2 separate regions of the Homo sapiens genome follow, and region 1 is linked to region 2. Evidence: fine-mapped expression QTL. Tissue or cell type: whole blood. Region 2 holds a variant in brackets; the other region holds the start of a gene. Each region is shown on its reference strand, or each on the opposite one.

What was found. PIP is the estimated chance that this variant, and not a neighbour inherited with it, causes the effect.
Region 1: it holds the start of FCER1A, and the variant in region 2 is fine-mapped to the expression of FCER1A in whole blood (TOPMed, PIP above 0.99).

The regions. Positions count from the first base shown.
Region 1 is chr1:159,298,959-159,304,293 of GRCh38, forward strand. It overlaps FCER1A (Fc epsilon receptor Ia), which reads left to right and starts at 3,378. Exons shown (of 5, transcript NM_001387280.1): 1 at 3,378-3,461; 2 at 3,896-3,916; 3 at 4,970-5,224. The coding sequence starts at 3,407.
Region 2 is chr2:144,569,502-144,574,891 of GRCh38, forward strand. The region is part of intron 2 of LINC01412 (long intergenic non-protein coding RNA 1412); the gene reads left to right. Among named protein-coding and RNA genes, the nearest start is that of LINC02993, 48 kb to the left of the region's middle. The variant T/G (reference allele first, on the strand shown) is at 2,320.

The DNA.
Region 1 (5,335 bases), not on the chromosome of region 2:
CTATCTATCTGTCAATCAATCATCTATCTATCTGGTCATGAGCATGTGCTCTTAAGACATATTGCCAGGTTCAAATTCTAATTCCTTTACATAGCAACTGTGTGCCCTGGGACAAGTTACTTAACCTCTCATGCTTTGATTTCCTTATTCTTAACTACATAGAGTTGGTAGTAGGAGGAAAATAGATAGGACATGTTGCATAGTTAGCCTTGTATTTGATCCTCAGGGAGAGATCAACATTTGTTAGGTACATAAATATCACGAGCAGACAGGCATTTTGCACTTTCATCGTTTCATATTCAATTTTATATGGACCTCACCTTGTTTTAGAGAACTTTGAGAGTGAGAAGGAAGCCAGCAGATTGATTTGGTTTTTCTGCTTCCCAGTTTTGGAGAAGGACATAAAGGCTAACACACTGTATAGGCTGAGCCTTGATCCTCCCTCTGCCAGGCACGTCCCGAAACACAAAAGTTCCTGCCCAAAGCCTCTCACGCTGGATCCAGTTGCAGGGGCACCTCACAGTCCTCAGGCCCTGTAGCTCATGTACAGCCATTTGTTTCATTTTTCCACTGCTACAAAATGAAATATAGATTAAGGCTCCCAACATCAAATAACAGGTCCAAGTTTGGGCATAGTGATACTCTTTGTGTATTGAGCATTCCTGTACCCAGAATCAGAAGCAAGAACTGAAATTTAGACACGCCCTATTGATTTCAGTGAACGTGTGTTCCTGATGTGGACAGGCTGGGTATGAGAAATTAGTAGCAGCCCACTCCACCCAGATAATGGATATGAAACTTGAAGGACTTTTTTTTTTATATATAAGATAAAAAACCTGTGGCATTCAACTGTGTATCAGCCCGTTCTTCCAGGGAGGAATAGAGCTCTTGTTTAATGTTAGTGTTAATGTGTTCCTTCTGTGTTCTTGTTCTGTTCTTTTGGGTACCTGTAGTTATATGCTATGGAAATTAGGGTATGGCTTTTTCTTTCCGATGCTGTTAATGGTTTGCTTTTTTGGGGTGGGGGTGGGCTGGGAAGATGGGTAGTTTGGTTGCTTTTTAGGCTTTAATGAGCTGCTTTTATTGGACTGCTACATTTTTGCTGTTACTGCTACCAAAGCACTTCCTTTATTTCAATACCGGGCACTTAAGCAAAAGCTTTAGAATGATAAATCCAAAGTTTCAGAAAGCTTTAGAAATGAAAGTGGCCTCCCTAACTCCAAAGCTTATACTCTTCGAACTAGGAATAGTACCTCTCGATGAGCCCTGCTCCATCTCCCATCTAAGTAGGAGCTATTTAGATAACGACTTCAGAGGAAGCCTTTAAATAGACTATTTGAGTCATGGTAAAATGACTCTCTCTGAGGGACAATTTGATTGTAGGTTCACTGTCCTAGGAAAAAGGAACCCAAATTTCCCCTGGCAAAGTCTCAACAAACTGGTAAAGTAGAATCTTTCCCCGTCTCTTCCAGGGCTTAGGGCTTCAAATATTGCCCTCTGACAGCACCTTAAAAACTACATCTTCCCTATTTCCTCCTCCTTCTCTTCTCCAATCCTATCCAACAACTTTCTGCATTCTGTTCTTTCCTGATTATGCTCTCTTCTTTGTGACTGTGGAGAGGATTGAGATTGCGTAGATATATTAAACTAGCATAAGATGTTGTTTATCAAATTAAACATACTATGTAGGTTGACAATAACTTTAATCCAGTCAAAATTCATATTTCTCCTATAAGTCTTTAATAAATAATGATAATAAAGAAGACAAAAAATGTATTTATTGACCATATTTCACATGTCAGATGCTGTGCAATGCATTTTACTTCTTTTTTATCTTATTAAATCTCATAATATAACCATGACCTGGATACCATTATTGTCCCTATTATACAGGTAACCTTCAATCACATAAAAATTAGGAACATTTGAATTCAGAGCTTAAAACACAAACAACTTGTACTTTTCAAAATAACTTGCTGTTACCTTTAAGGTCTGTCATTAAAACATAGCATGTCCTGGGCTCAGTACCTAATCTTTCTTATCTGAAACTTAAATTCCTATTTATTAACCTTTTTAGCCCTATATTTTCTAATTCCATAGAAAACTAAAGGTTTTGGTTAGATCTTCATGTGGAATGACTGGTTTCATTCAATAGACTTAATTCAGCAGTCTGTGGGGAAGAGCAAGGTATGATAGAATGGTTCCTCAAGTGCTTCAGATGTGAAGTGGGTTTAAATATACTGTCCCTGTCTTCTTCAGAGTTTTGGTAAAGATAAAATAGGACACTCATTTAAAAGCAATCTTTGCAAATGACAAGCCACTATAGACATTAATAGAGTTTTCATTTCCAGTATTATCATTAATATCAGATCCTGGAAGAAGGTTGAGCCTTGACCTAGAGCAAAAAAACAGAAGAATTAGTAAAGGAATCCTGGAGAAAGCCCCTGCTGTGTATTTAAAGGAGAAAGGGAGATCATGTTGGGAAATTATAATATTAAAAGTAAACAAAAGCTAGGAAGTAAAATAAAATAAATTATATGGCCTAGATCCCCATAAGTAATGGTTTAACTTCTGCCTTCCTGTGTTCTGAGCCAGATTAGGGCACAGTAGAGAAAGAGGAGTCTCTGAAAATGTTTCCAATTTCGCTGGTCAGACAGCGGATCATCAGTGAATCAGATGAAAATTTGTGGATTTATGCACTAACTGATCAGCAGGAAATTAAACAAGAAAAGCGTTGGTAGCTCTGGTGAATCCCAAAAGAATTTGGCAGTTGCTAGCCATGCTCCTGAATATGTATAAACAGTACATCATATGACTAAGAGTTTGACTTAGGGGTTAGATTTTATGTGTTTGAACCCCAAATTAGTTATTTAATAGTTGGCACCCCAAAACAAGTTACTTAACCTCACTAAGATTCAGTTTTCCTGTTTATAAAATGTAGATAGTGATAGTATGTACTTTATAGGATTATTGTGAAAAATAAATGAAATATCAGATTTATTTAGGATAACACCTGGCATATGTTTGGTATTCAGTAATTAGTTGCTGCTGTTTTATTCTGCTCTCCCTTGCATCCCACTTTTCTAAGTTGTAAACTAAATAGTTGTACACAGATTGACAGATTAAGAAAGGCTTGTGATTGTGCTAGACCTATGCCTCTCTCTCACCAGATTCCAGGTGTATATGTGGAGGTGGGATAGGGAGTGGAGTAAGTGGGTAAATATTAAATTGCCCAGTTGGGCACCATCCTGAATATTATCTCTAAAGAAAGAAGCAAAACCAGGCACAGCTGATGGGTTAACCAGATATGATACAGAAAACATTTCCTTCTGCTTTTTGGTTTTAAGCCTATATTTGAAGCCTTAGATCTCTCCAGCACAGTAAGCACCAGGAGTCCATGAAGAAGATGGCTCCTGCCATGGAATCCCCTACTCTACTGTGTGTAGCCTTACTGTTCTTCGGTAAGTAGAGATTCAATTACCCCTCCCAGGGAGGCCCAAATGAATTTGGGGAGCAGCTGGGGTAGGAACCTTTACTGTGGGTGGTGACTTTTTCTAGGACATGTGCAAACTATTGGGCATTTCCCAGGGACTCTGTAGTGGAGCCAAGCTAGAAAGCAGAGGCAAGTGGGCTGAGCAACACCTAAGGAGGAAGCCAGACTGAAAGCTTGGTTCCTTGCATTTGCTCTGGCATCTTCCAGAGTGCAAATTTCCTACCAAGGAAATGAGGGTAGAGGAGAGAAAGAAGCTCTTTCTTCCCCTGATTCTGATTCCTGAAAAGACGGTTGGTCCTTAAAATTCCATGGATGTAGATCTTATCCCCACACCCAGATTCTAGTCCTCTGGAGATAAAGAAGACTGCTGGACACTAATGTATCCTCTCTGGACTTTTGCAGCTCCAGATGGCGTGTTAGCAGGTGAGTCCTCTGTTCTTGTTCCCTTGGTGTTTCAACATGTCTGGGCATTGCTTTCCTCTCACTATTTTCTTCGTCCCATCACTTCTGCTTTCTAATGAGCATGAATCTGTTCCTTGGCCAGACTACTTTCCCTCTCCACCTTGCCTTGTCTTTCTTTTTTTCCCTGATTCATTGCATTCTCTCAAGTCATTCTCTCCTCTGTTTTAGTCAATAACCATGTCTGTTGCACATATACATGTCTCATTCTCTCTCCTAGACACTTTGGCATGATCTCGCTCAATAATTACATTATTATTATTATTGCCATTTTATAATTGAGGATGCTGAAACTCAGTGATTTTCTGGTGGTTACATGGCTAAGGAACTGGATTTCAACGTAAGTTCCTTGGATCTAAGTCCAGTTCTCTTCTGACTATATCACCCTTTTGTTATCACCATGTATCTACTTCTTTGGTCTCTGTTCAAATTTGCACTACATCCCCTTGTTCCAGGAAGCCATTCAAGACTGACTTTCTTAGTGCCTCTCACTACTTTCTGGAACTGACATATGTTTTTCACTCTGTATATACTTACAATTAAATAGTCATAAATATTCAGAGCTTGGAGAAACCTTATATTTCATCCAGTCCAGTAAATTTATCCATCCATAATTCACTCATTCATTCACATAATAAATATTTAATGTAACAATGGTTGAACATGGCAGACAGTGTTTCTACCTCAAAAGAGATTGCAGTCCTCATTTACAGATACTGAATTGAAATTAACAGAAGTAGAGTGAGTCAGCTCAAATCACATAGTGAATTGGTTTCTTTGTTTTTAAATCTCCTGCATATGTGTCCTGTCTTTCTCCCTGTGTTGGGCGTTCCCTGGGGCACCAATACTAATTTCTCCTTCCCCTAGAAATCAAAACAGGGTCTTATCACCAACAGAATAAGGACAGGTTGACCACTGATTGTCAGAATATTGCTTCGTTTGTACTTTTAAGCCTAGACAGTTTTCAATGACTTTTTTTCTCTCTACATGTCTTTTCATATTTTTATCTTCTTGAAGTCCCTCAGAAACCTAAGGTCTCCTTGAACCCTCCATGGAATAGAATATTTAAAGGAGAGAATGTGACTCTTACATGTAATGGGAACAATTTCTTTGAAGTCAGTTCCACCAAATGGTTCCACAATGGCAGCCTTTCAGAAGAGACAAATTCAAGTTTGAATATTGTGAATGCCAAATTTGAAGACAGTGGAGAATACAAATGTCAGCACCAACAAGTTAATGAGAGTGAACCTGTGTACCTGGAAGTCTTCAGTGGTAAGTTCCAGGGATATGGAAATACAGATCTCTCATGTGAGGGATGGCTCATCTGAAGATGGGAAAAAACAGGTTATTCCAAGGGTTAGGACACCAGAGTGGGATTCAAGG
Region 2 (5,390 bases):
AAATAAGAATGAATAAGGTTATTAAGTGCAAAGAAGATAATGAGAGAGGGAGCCAAAGAAGGTCTGGGTTTCCTTGGCATGTGTGTGTAGGATACAGGCAATTGTAAATCTGTATCAAAAATCAAGCACAGCAGGAGGTGTTCGTCTCCCAGGTAATGGGTAAATGATGAGCAGATGAGCCATCCTTCTATTGATTTAAGCATTTTGTTTCAGCCAGTCACAATTAACTTTGATTTGTTTTTACTTTCCTCTTAAAGGTTTGCATTTAAAACACTCTTGGAGCACTAATTGTATAAAATTCTGGTAACTGCACATTCTCGTTTTAGAGAGGTAATGAGTGAATGAATGAAAAGGCAGGGATTATTTGCTATTCTGAGTGAGGATTGTCAGAGCATTTCTACTTGACTGAAATTGTTTTGGAAGGTGAGCTGGAACAGGAATCTTGCAACTAAAATGATGTGACTCTCCATGTGGTTTTTGGATGTTTCTTTATCAAAGAATTTTGCGGTATGGTTCTGGGACTTACAAGTTGATTAATAACTTTATTTATTTATGAGAGAATATTTAAGTGAATAATATGAAAACATTTTAAGGTATGCTTACTTGACTGAAGTAAATGAGAGTCTCTTGAAAGTTCATTTGAAAGGATTTGAAATGGGATTTTCCTCTTACCATCACAATATTTTTTCAAGATACAAATGGCCATGTTGTGACAAAATACATTATTGAAATGCTTTGAAAAGTTTTTAAAAACATGCCTAAGAAAACAATATGTAGACCATTACAGTTAATTCAGATATCAATTTATTAATATTGCTGCTACTGGAAAGTCCTAAAACGTACGGGACATCATTCCAAAACACTTGGGGTCTGTTTTAATAAGCAGCTCTTTCTCTGTTCTTGTTTGGAAGGGGCACTAGGGTTGCCAGATTTAGTAAACAAAAATAAAGATTGCCCGGTTAAATCTGAATGTCTAATAACTAATGAATTTTTTTAGGATAAGAATGTCCCATGCAATGTTTGTATTTTATCTGGCAACCTTAGGTAGTACTTTGGTTGGATAGAAATTACAGCCATGCATTGAATATGTGACTGAATACTGAGAAATTATTATTTTAAAATGATTTTACCTTTTACTGTCAGACCAGATAGGCCAACCAGCTTGCCCCCTTCAAATAGAAACCAAAAGCTTTTTAGCTCCTTAATGCTGAGTTTAATTTCCCGTATCATGTTCCTAGGGTAAGTTGTGACTTGTCATTTTCAGTATACTGTGACATCAGCCTGACTAATATAGAGACATTAGAGAAGATGGAAGAGTGTAGCTTACATCGATCAGGCTTTGACTAGAATGTTCGGTGATTATAGGTGTAGAGAATTGAATGATGCAATGATATATTATGTTAGTGAAGCCACATCTTTTTTGTGGCAGTATTTTGACTATATAGGTAGCCAAGTTTAAAATCCTTGTGATTCTAACCCTGGTAAGAACTTCTGGGAGGGGAAAGATTCTATGTCCTTGCACTTTTATTTTGTTTCATTTAACTTTGGTTACAATAATCTAGTGGCTAGATTAATAATAATCTAGAAACTAAGCCAAAGCTTCCAGAAAACCAAATATCTGATTTATCTTTGGGGCCAGCATTCACTTTTGCTAGTAGCATTTTTCACTTTCTGATGCTTTCCATGGCTTATCAGGAGGCCTATTTGTAGAAGAGAAGTTTGGAGCCCCATGCCCCCTACTGATTTCACTATAGCTTTAGAGGACAGTTCCTAGGAAACCTAGGCTGGGCCTGGGTGGTCCCACCTCTAGAACACTTTGTGAATCATCCCAATTTCTGCCTCAGAGCCTTCTCCCAGGCTGCAGAAGCCTGCTTCATGATTCCTCCCTCAGGCCTAGCATGGAAATATAGGGGGAATTAACACCTGCCAGGGCAATCTTTGTGATAAGTATTCCCGCCAACGATTTTTTGAACAGGCAATTCTGAAAAGCACTAGGCATTCTCAGAGGTCCTATTTTCAACAGCAGGAATCTTAGGTACCCTTTAGGAACATTATTTGGCTTTTCCTCCAGCCCTTCCTTATTCCCGCTATTCCCGCCCTCTCATTTCTAGGGAAAACTAACATGCATCTTATTCCTTGTTTCAGGCTCTGCTTTTAGTGGAACCCTAGCTAAGATACTCCTGATGCTCTTTTCTCCCCAGCACCACGGTTCTCTCCTTGCTCTAGATCTAGATATTTTGCTTCCTGTGGTTCCATCAAGATTTACATTTTTTTCCCTTATCAGTGGAAGAGAGTTCTGCCACTGTATCTACTGGTACT[T/G]CTAAGTCATATTGGTTACCAAATGCATCATGCACATTTTCCTCACCCAAACTCTCCTCTTTATAATGAAAACAATTATTGAATGCCCACTACATGTGAGAATATATGCTAAAGGTTCCATGCAGATTGTTTCATTTTATCCTCATGACGTCACCAAAAAAATAAGTATTTCTACCTTACAGATGAAAAAACTGAGGTTCAGGGTGATTAAGGGATTTTTACCAATATCACAAAGCTAGTAAGTGGCAGAAGCAGCATTGCATTCTGACATATCTGACACCAAAGACCATTGTTTTAACCATGACATCATAAATTCCACCATATAAAGATGTTAGAAATGAGTTTCTTTGTCAAATACTAATATGCATGGCTAAAGAGATAATTGAGTAGAAGGCTGGGATGAGAGAGCTTGTATCAAATACAGCAAACTTTTTTTGTTTTTTAAAAAAAGGTCTTCATATCTGCTTATAATTGAACACAAGTTCTGAAGTATTGGTTCCATCATGAGACCTGGAACTCCATAAACCTATGTCTGTTCTGGTTCACAGTGCCTTATACATGGTAGGACTTAATAAATATGCACTGAATGAACTAATTGGAGTATCACAGAATATAGCTTAAAATGACCTCAGTGAGCTCAAAGTTTCAGTGATTCACTTTATTAAACAATTGACTGTAACCTCTTTCAAGATGATCTGTTACTTGGAAATTTAAAATCCCAGTAGTGTCTTATGTAATGTAAGACAAAGTGTTTAGAACAATGTTATAATGTGGCTCTCAATTAAATATGTTAACTTCAGCTAATTTAAAACTATTGGGAGCAAAGGGAGGCAGAAAGATTCCATCTGATGTTACAATAGGCACATACTTAGAGAGGTCTGGGAGTGCTGGGTGCAGAGGTCAAATGTAGTAAACGTGAACTTCTGTGGAGACAGGGAGAGGCTACCCAGTAGTCAAAAGAAGATCTGGTCTCCACGTGGAAAACAGTGGCAGAGTTAGTAACCCTTCTTTATGATTTAGCTTGGCAAAGTGAGGACCCATGACAGCTCTTTCTGTCTGATTCTCCCTATTTTGACAAAATTAATGTATTTCATAAATATTAAAATTCTGAAGTCCTTAGGAACTGACTGCAGCTACATTTTTAGATCAATTCTCTAAATCTAGCATATTTATCTAATTGCATCCCTTGAAGTAGAGTCAGAGGTTCACCATGCAAATCTTCCCTGACATTTTATTGATAGAACCACTATTCTCTTCAAACTGCCATGATGTTAGAGGTCTGACTCTATGACATCTTCTGAAACTTTCATGAGGTTGTTAGTTTTGAACAATAAAGAAAGATGAGCATATGCAATTTCTACTTGTGCTTTGTGGGTTACTCTTGGGTTTCATAGGCAACTTTAGTAACTAGTTAGCCCCTTAAGAGTGAAAGCAGAAACTGTAGCAGCCCTATGTAATTGTCACTAGAAGAATTGACACCACCAGTGAAAAATAAGAAAGTCAGATGTAACTTGATCTTTTCAGGGTCACCAATAGGAGCTAGGTAACAAACAAAAGTAGGTTTTGTTTGTTGCATTACAAGATAGTAAACGAGAGCTCTGATGGTCTGCAATTCAACATGCTGGATGGGAAAATACTTTTAGGCAGATTCGATATGAACTAAAAAAATCTTAACATGTCTGTAATGCTAAAATTCTACTCAGAGGATTTTTTTTAGTTGGTTGTGCAAGTGAACCAAATTTGTCTTCGCCTACAGATGAAATTATTTTGATTAGCTGAATCCTAATGAATAATTTAAAATGTAAACAATAGAAAATAATACAATTGTTATATGTTTATTTATATAGCAGCTACTATGTATGGATCTTAATTAGGATTAGGATTTATAAATTAGTGCAGCTGAGATGAGAATGAATATAAATTACACAACTGATCCTGCTGGAAAAATTAAGATTCACATATACCTTTACATATCTAATGCTAACAGTGGGAACAGACTCCATTCAGAATGTTTCTCTGATCAAACTTAGAAAAGTCTAGGGCATTTTCTCTCAAAATGCCTGAAATCATATCTAATAGTCAATGCCTTGGTCTGTGTATAAGCTTAAATTACATAAAAATAATAAAATTTATAATCTTAAATTACATAAAAATTATAACTTTAAATTATATAAAATTATAAAAATTCAATTATCTTAAATTATAAACATGCATATGTGAACTAAGACGTATTCAATATCTTCATTAGGCAGACTTTTGTGGCTTTTAACTTTCACTGACGGAAGCATTCTCTTCTTTGTATTAATGCCAAACACCATTTGAACCAGAATTCTTTTTGGTTTTTGGATCCAAAAAGACAGAGTCTGATGAAGCCACATCCTTTTATAGCTGGGAGAAACATATTTTCTTCTTACACATATATTGTCTGTAACTGTTGGCAGGGTTGGAACTACTATCAGAAGTTAGGAATAGAGGTGTTATAGATCCCCATCAGCCACTATTCTAATACCAATGAGGCCTTGGGATATAGCCTGACATACATGTGAGATAGCCATCCCTTCTCACCTTTAAACCTGAGGCTCAGGAAAATTGCTTCAACCCTGTCAAGTAAGGATGACCTTACTTGAGAATATTGGCTCTTCTATCCATTTAGAAGCATATTGAGGCCAGGTGTGGTGGCACACACCTACTGTAATCCCAGCAGTTTGGGAGGCTGAGGTGGGAGGATGGCTTGAGCTCCTGAGGTTGAAGCTTCAATGAGCCCTGATTGTGCCACTGCACTCCAACCTGGGTGACTCAAAACAAACAAACAAACAAACAAACAAACAAACAAACAGAGCATATGGAGAATAGTGGACTCTTTCATGATCTTCAATCTTTATAAACGACTTTTTGTTGCCCTTTTGACTACTTTGCAAGTCAAGATTGACTTTGATGTAGAAAAGTATCCAGCTCTTCCTCATTTGAATGATAAGTGGCATAGTCCTACACATCAATAGGTTCCATTAATTATTTCACAATTTCTGTTATAATTGTCTCTTTCTTTTCAGTTCCACTAACACCACCCATCC